Linked DNA regions of Homo sapiens. The protein of the gene in region 2 purifies or fractionates together with the protein of the main gene of each other region. This does not show direct contact. Each region holds a gene or a part of one and is shown on either strand. Other genes may lie near its edges. The genes, in order: XAF1 and NAIP.

Region 1 (3,821 bases), on a different chromosome or scaffold from region 2:
GGCAAATGCTATGGAAAAAATAATAGAAGAAGGTAAGGGGTTGGTAAATATGTGATGGAGAGGGAGTTGCAATTTTAAATAGGTTGTTGTGGTACATCTCCTTGAGAAGGTGCCATCTGGGCAAAGACTTGAGAGAAGTGAGAGAGTTAGCTCCTGGAGTAGGGTGGGGAAGGTGAGGAGGTAGCTTCCAGCCAGAGGCAGTAGCCAGTGAAAAGGCCCTAAGGCATGGTATGCTCAAGAAACAATCAGGAGGCCAGTGAGCTGAACAGGAGTAGTACATGAGATCAAAGAGGTGATGAGATAAGAAGGGAGGCAAAGATGACATAGATCTCTAAAGCCACTGTAGTTTTGAGTTTGCATAAAATGGGGCAAGAATCAGTACAGAGATCTGAACAGAGGAGCCAAACAATCTGACTTGTATTTTTAAGGGATCACGTTGACCTCTGTGATGAGAATAGACTGTAGGGGGCAAGGTGAGAAGTAGGAAGACCGTTTAGGAGACTGCTGCAGCATCTGGGCTAGAGAAGATGATGGTTCATACCAGGGTAGCAATGCGGAGGGAAAGAGAAGTCGAGAGTGAACCTGAGATTTTGGCCTGAACAACTGGAAAGATAGAGTTGCCATCAACTGAGATGGGCCAAGCTGTGGCAGAGAGGATTCCATTTCAGATGTGTTACATTTAAGATGTCTATCAAGCATTCAAGTGAAGATGCAGTAAATAGTAATATACAAATCTAGAGTTTGGGGAGAAAAACCCAGACTGAGATATAAATTTGGAAGTGTCTGACTACATATGGCTTTTTAAAAAATTTTTAAATTTTTATTTATTTATCTATTTTTTGAGATGGAGTCTCGCTCTGTCGCCCAGGCTGCAGTGTAGTGGCGTGATCTCGGCTCACTGCAAGCTCCGCCTCCTGGGTTCACGCCATTCTCCTGCCTCAGCCTCCCGAGTAGCTGGGACTATAGTCACCCACCACCACACCCGGCTAAGTTTTTGTATTTTTAGTAGAGACGAGAGTTCACTGTGTTAGCCAGGTTGGTCTCGATCTCCTGACCTTGTGATCCTCCCACCTCGGCCTCCCAAAGTGCTGGGATTACAGGCATGAGCCACCATACCCGGCCTTACATATGGCATTTTTAAAAATCAGGAGGTAGGATGAAATAATGAAGGCAGTGAATATAGGTAGAGAAGAGACCAGAGACTAAGCCCTGGGGCCCCCCAAAATTAAGAGGCTGGGGAGGTAGAGAATGAGAGACCACCAATGTCCTTGAAAACCAGGAAAGTGTGGTACCCTGGAAGCCGAGAAAGTCCACTGAGGAAGAGGGAGTGATGAGCAGTAAATGCTTCCCATAAATTGAGAACTGAGAACTGAGCATTGGATTTAGCAATGCAGAGGTCATTGATTTTGACAAGAGCAGATTTGGTTAAAATGGAGAGCCAGACTGGAGTGGGAATAAGAATGAGAGAAGAAAAGATGGAGGCAGTTACTTATAGACAACTAGCTCAAATGTTTTTCTACGGAGGGGAACAAAGAAACAAGATGGTAGCTTATAGGAAATGGGATCAGAAGTATTTCATGTTTTTCTGGCTTTGGGTCATATTAATAAAAAGTTAAAGACTGAAAACCACAAAACCACCTAGTATACATGATTTCAATCCTTAATTTTCAAAATTAAAAAAAAATTCTTTTCGTGCAAGGCCATTGATATATAAATATTCAATAGTGGTACCCCTTTAAAAAGTTATTGTAAGAAATGTTAGGACAACCTAGAGATGTGAGACTTTGTTGTTACCTGCGTGTACAGCTCATTTAACCTCTCTCTGTTGCAGGACAGAGAGGGGAGAATTGCTGGAGCAGTGTAGCAAAAAACTTGTGTGACCTTGTGTAGGCAAAAAGAGAGGGTATATTATACCAGTAGGAGGGGATAGGCTTTAGAGAGGCACATAGGAAGCTCCTCTATGGTTAAGAGGTGGGAAGGCAAAGTAAGTGAGTGTGGATGCTGCCAAGGAGATAGATCTGGTGTTGGCTGGTTGTGGATGTCTTCTTTTCCTGAACAAGGAGATAAACCATTATCCCCATTTTCCTCAAAAGAAGAAAGAAGCTCAGAGAGGTTACACAGCCAGTAAGGGGCACAGCAGAACTAAAATTCAGAGTTTCTGAGCACAAATCCAGTTCCATGTGTATTGGAGCTCCCCACTTCCCTGTAGCCTTCAAATAAGTGTGTAGGTGCCCTGGTTGCCAGGCTGGACATTTGAAGGGAAGTAGTCAGCTTTACTCTTGTTTTGGTGCTCACCAAGTATTTTCTCATTCAAACAGAACACATGGACCACTTATAGGATCGAATAAACATCAGTACTAAGGAAAACAAGTCAGTAGGTGATTTCCACGTACAGCCAAGGCTGAGAATCCCGTGGCTGGGGCAGCGCATCTCAGACTTGAAATGCCTGGGAAATCATGTGACCCTGCATATTCTGATTTAGCATTTCTAGGGGGAGGGCCTGAGATTCTGCATTTCTAACAGGATTCCAGGTGATGCTCATGCAGCTGGTCCACAGACTGCACTTCAAAAAGCAAAGAGCTGAAAGGTGGAAACAATCCGAATGTTTACCAACAAGTAGAGAAACAAAATGTGGGATGACCGTAAAAAGGCCATTAACTTTGGGAGGCCGAGGAAGGCGGATAACCTGCGGTCAGGAGTTTGAGACTGGCCTGGCCAACATGGTAAAACCCCGTCTCTACTAAAAAAAAATACAAAAATTAGCCGGGCGTGGTGGCAGGCACCTGTAGCCCCAGCTACTCCGGAGGCTGAGGCAGGAGAATCGCTTGAACCCGGGAGGCAGAGGTTGCAGTGAGCCGAGATCACGCCACTGCACTCCAGCCTGGGCAACAGAGTGAGACCCTGTCTCAAAAAAATAAAAGAAAAGAAAAGGCCATTAAAAGGAATGAAATGCTGACACATGCCACAACTACAACACGGGCAAACCTTGAAAATGTTACGGTAAGTGAAAGAAGATGGTTACATAAGACCACATATTATATGAGTCTACTGATGTGAAGTGTCCAGAATAGACAAATCCATAGAGATAGAAAGCAGATTAGTGGTTGCCAGGAACTGGGAAGATGAGGGAATGTACAGTACCTGCTAATGGGTATAGGATTTCTTTTTGGAATGATGAAAATATTCTAGAACCAGATTGCACAACATTGTGAATGTACCAAATGTCTCTATAGTGATGGCAAATTTTACATTATACGTGGTTTACCACAATAGTAAAAAGAAAAAGAAAAGAGCGAAAAGCTGGATCGTCTCTATGGTTTCTTTAGTTTTGATATTCTGTAGTTTTAAGCACTGAAGTGTTAAGAAAGGTAAACAACTTTCTGCCCAAGGAGAAGGAGAAGAGTTCTTTGGAGAGAAGCCTTGGTAAGTTTCCCAAAGGGGAAATGCTCCATTCTGTGCAAAAGAAGGGAGCAACTTGGCACAGCAATGCACTAAACGGCGCTTAGGGGCTATGGAGGGAAGAACCTGTGAGTGTTCCCAGGCAAAATCAGTCAGTCAGTCAATCACGTAACTGCGCCTCTACAGAGTCCTCTTTTTGCACCAAGCTCTGATGTCAGGAAAATGGAAAAAGTCATGCAGTTTTGCAGGAAGCTCACAGTCTAATAGAGAAGACTCCCACATGGGACCGAAAACAGTAAGACAGGCCCTACTGAGGACCAAATTGCAATGTCCAGGCCATGAAGTTTGGAGATGGTCAGAGGTGATCGGGGGTGTTGGGAGTGGCAAGGGAAGCCCCTTTGAAGGGCTGGGCACAAATGAAG
Region 2 (3,821 bases):
TCTTTGAGTTCTCAGGGTCAAAGTGATAGGGAAGCCGACTAACACCAGGACCAGCTGAAGTAACGTGCAATTAGAAAACCTACGTTTTAGCCTTGCCATGACATTTCGGTAGAAACATAGGCATGTTTCTTAAAGTCTCTGAGCCTCCATGAACTCAGCTGTGAAATGGGAGAGAAAGGGGTAAATTCATTGGATAAGAATTAGTACTCACTCTATGCCTAGCATAAAGTAGGTACAGTACTCAGTAAATGATCGTTGTTATTGTTAGAACTCTGATTTATATATCATAACCCCTATGGCGGGGCTAGGACAAACAAACAAAACCCTCCAATACTGCAGCAATGAGAAGAATCAAAGAAAGATCATGTAAGAGCAGTAGAAGGAGGGTGGGTGAGGAGACTGGGATCAGGATGACCGCATGAGTTATTTAATCTTTTCAGGACCTTAAGAATACAGCCAGTATTTTCTAAGGTCCAAGTTTAAGGAGACGTAACTTTCTTATTTTATATATATTTGACAAATTAACACAGGCTGTACTAAATAGAAAATGAAGCAAAAATAAAAATATTGATGTTGAATTTTAATAAACTAGACCTTATACCTAATATAACACATTTAACCAGTGAAGAAAGTTTAGCAAAATATTGCAAAAGCAATTGAAAAATAAAACCTAAACTTAAAACGCCAGAGAAACACTTCAGAGAATAATTTCAAGGTACCTGTAAAGACAAAGCCAGCCTCTGAGAGCACACAAGGGGATATCCCTTGGACATAAAATGGCCAGTTCCTGAAGGACGCAAGTCTAGCCTCCTCTTCTTGGTACCTCATTTTACCTCCTCTCAGCCTGCTCTTCAGATTCTTCACCCTTATGTCGTACTTGGCAATGTTACCAACATCCTTGTTCAAAAGGAACCCACAATCTGGATGAAACCTCTTGTGGTCTTCTATGGGGAGTCTCGTGAGGCCGGCACCAAAGAGGATTAGGCTACAGCAGAAGCACTGAATCCCAGATTTTACCCCAGTGAAGTAAAACCCAGCGGCCGCCATCTCCTGTGGTATCCATGAGCTGTACGGCTCATAAGTCACAAAAGTCTTTAACCTTTTTGCTTCACTGCGCATTTGAGAGTTGTAGCCTTTCTGCATTTTTGCTCGCTCCTTCTGCTCCTCTTCTTCTAGTTCCTTTGCCAACTGAACTGCATCTAGGCCCAGAAGAGCAGACAGCTCTGGCAGCAAATTGTGATCAAACTGGGAGATCCTCTCGTCAGAGGCTTTCTGCTGGGTGGCCATTTTCTGAAAAGGAAAATAAAGCAGGTTGATCCCTTATAGTAAGATTTTTCTTAGAAGAGCATTTCCCACTGTTTCCGAAGAAACCAGGAATTAAAGGAATGCCTGGAATTTCAACACAAAAGATAAATTGTTGGAAAATTATGAAACATCAGTATTCATCTACTTAATCAACAAATATTTACTAAGCACCTACTATATATCAGGTACAGTGCTAGACATTGGGGATCTAGCAACCAACAAGACAGACACCCATCTGCCTCCATTCATGAAGCTTTCCAGATATCAGTTATGGACACAATGTGGTAACATGAGCATATACTGAACATTTATATTAAAGAAAAACATAGACAAAATTGTATAGCCTGGCAGCAACAATTTGATCGAATTACTCAGTTTTAAAAAATCATTATTTTGTGTTCATGTTTTAAGTCTCGGTGCTCTGGCCGGGCGCGGTGGCTCACGCCTGTAATCCCAGCACTTTGGGAGGCCGAGGCAGGTGGATCACGAGGTCAGGAGATGGAGAACATCCTGGCTAACAAGGTGAAACCCCATCTCTACTAAAACTACAAAAAAAATTAGCCGGGCGTGGTGGCGGGCGCCTGTAGTCCCAGCTACTCGGGAGGCTGAGGCAGGAGAATGGCGTGAACCCAGGAGGTGGAGCTTGCAGCGAGCCGAGATCGCGCCACGGTACTCCAGCCTGGGTGACAGAGCAAGACTCCGTCTTAAAAAAAAAAAAAAAAAAAAGAAGCTCAGTAACAGGCCAATGACTGTTTTTCAAAGGACATATACCTGCCAGAAGCCTCGGGTAACTTTCTAGTGTCAAATCCCCATGACCATCCCTGAGGGGCAGTCACGGGCTTTGGTAAGAAGCTCCATCAGCGTGAGTCGGTTGCTGACATTGCTAACATCATTTGAACACTGAGGTGCTATGGCCCCAAAGTAATCTCTTCGAAGTTCCCAAAAAGTCTCCCATTTGTTCATTTTTCAAAGCCCCATGTAAATTAGCTCCCCATTCCCTCTTAACTTCGAGAATAAGGGTTGATAAAATTCCCAAACATGGTATGTGATTTCTCCAGGAACCAAGAAATTGAACTAATTTTCGTGCCTTTTTCCTCTGTCTTGTAGCTAGCAACTTAATTTTGGTTGTTTGGGAATGTTTCTAGTGGCTCTAGCCCAAGTAATTCCTCCTTTTTTTTTTTTTTTAGACAGTCTCACTCTGTCACCCAGGCTGGAGTGCAGTGGCGTGGCCTCGGCTCACTGCAACCTCCGCCTCCTGGGTTCAAGCAATTCTCCTGCCTCAGCCTCCTGAGTAGCTGGGATTACAGGCACGTGCCACCAATTGCGGCTAATTTCTGTATTTTTAGTAGACACAAGGTTTTGCCATGTTGGCCAGCTTGGTCTCCAACTCCTGACCTCAAGTGATCCGCCTGCCTTGGCTTCCCACTCTTGTCCTTGTCGCCCAGGCTGAAGTGCAGTGGCGCAATCTCAGCTCCCACACCGGGATTACAGACGTGAGCCACCACACCCAGCCTAGCCCAAGTAATTTCTAAGAATTTTACCATTTATTCTAAGCCTTGCATTTTAGCCAGTTAATCATCCCTCCCTGGTGGTTATATGATTAACAAGCACTTCCAATTCAGTCTTAGCTGGATATTTGGATTGAGAGATTAACATTATTATCATCAATATAATAAGACATAGTATTAGCTGGGCGCAGTGGCTCATGCCTGTAATCCCAGCACTTTGGGAGGCTGAGGCGGGCAGATCACCTGAGGTCAGGAGTTCAAGACCAGCCTGGCCCACATGGTGAAACCCCATCTCTACAAAAATAAAAAAAATTAGCCGGGCATGATGGTGGGTGCCTGTAATCCCAGCTACTCAGGAGGCTGAGGCGGGAGAATCAGTTGAACCTGGGAGGCAGAGGTTGCAGTGAGCCAAGATCTCGCCATTGCACTCCAGCCTGGGTGACAGAGTGAGACTCCATCTCAAACAAACAAAAAAAAGATATAGTATTTTCCAGTGCAATCAAATCTAAGTTGTTCCTCATTAGGTTGTAGCAATAAGCAAGATAATTTAAATGTCCTGTGGGAGCAGCTTAAATGTGCATTGGTGGCCTTTCCACACAAATGCAAATTGATTATGATTTTCTCCTGAAATAGGAATCAAAAAGAAAGTAAGTGGCCAAGTGTGGAGGCTCACACCTGTAATCCCAGCATTTTGGGAGGCCAAGGTGGGAGGATTGTTTGTGGCTAGGAGTTTGAGGCCAGTTTAGGCAACTTAGTGAGATCCTTGTCTCTACAAAAAATTTTAAAAATTAGCCAGATGTGTTGGCACATGCCTGTAGTCCCAGCTACTCGGGGAGCAGAGGCAGAAGGATCACTTGAGCCCAAGAATTCAAGGTTACAGTGAGCCACAATTATGCCACTCACTGTACATTTCATGAAATCTCTTTCCTCAACAGCATCCCCATTCAGATGTCACATCCATTCCGATAATATATCAGGGAGAGATGATAACAATTATGCAATTATATT

Evidence for each region.
Region 1: the proteins of NAIP (region 2) and XAF1 purify together in Homo sapiens (affinity purification with western blotting, with the first as the bait; one study listed by BioGRID). This does not show direct contact.

The regions. Positions count from the first base shown.
Region 1 is NC_000017.11:6,762,433-6,766,253, reverse strand, and holds part of XAF1 (XIAP-associated factor 1), read right to left. Parts: intron 1-3,821. UniProt on the Homo sapiens protein: Seems to function as a negative regulator of members of the IAP (inhibitor of apoptosis protein) family. Inhibits anti-caspase activity of BIRC4. Induces cleavage and inactivation of BIRC4 independent of caspase activation.
Region 2 is NC_000005.10:71,011,629-71,015,449, forward strand, and holds part of NAIP (baculoviral IAP repeat-containing protein 1), read right to left. Parts: intron 1,291-3,821; 5' UTR 1,288-1,290; coding exon 720-1,287; intron 1-719. UniProt on the Homo sapiens protein: Anti-apoptotic protein which acts by inhibiting the activities of CASP3, CASP7 and CASP9. Can inhibit the autocleavage of pro-CASP9 and cleavage of pro-CASP3 by CASP9.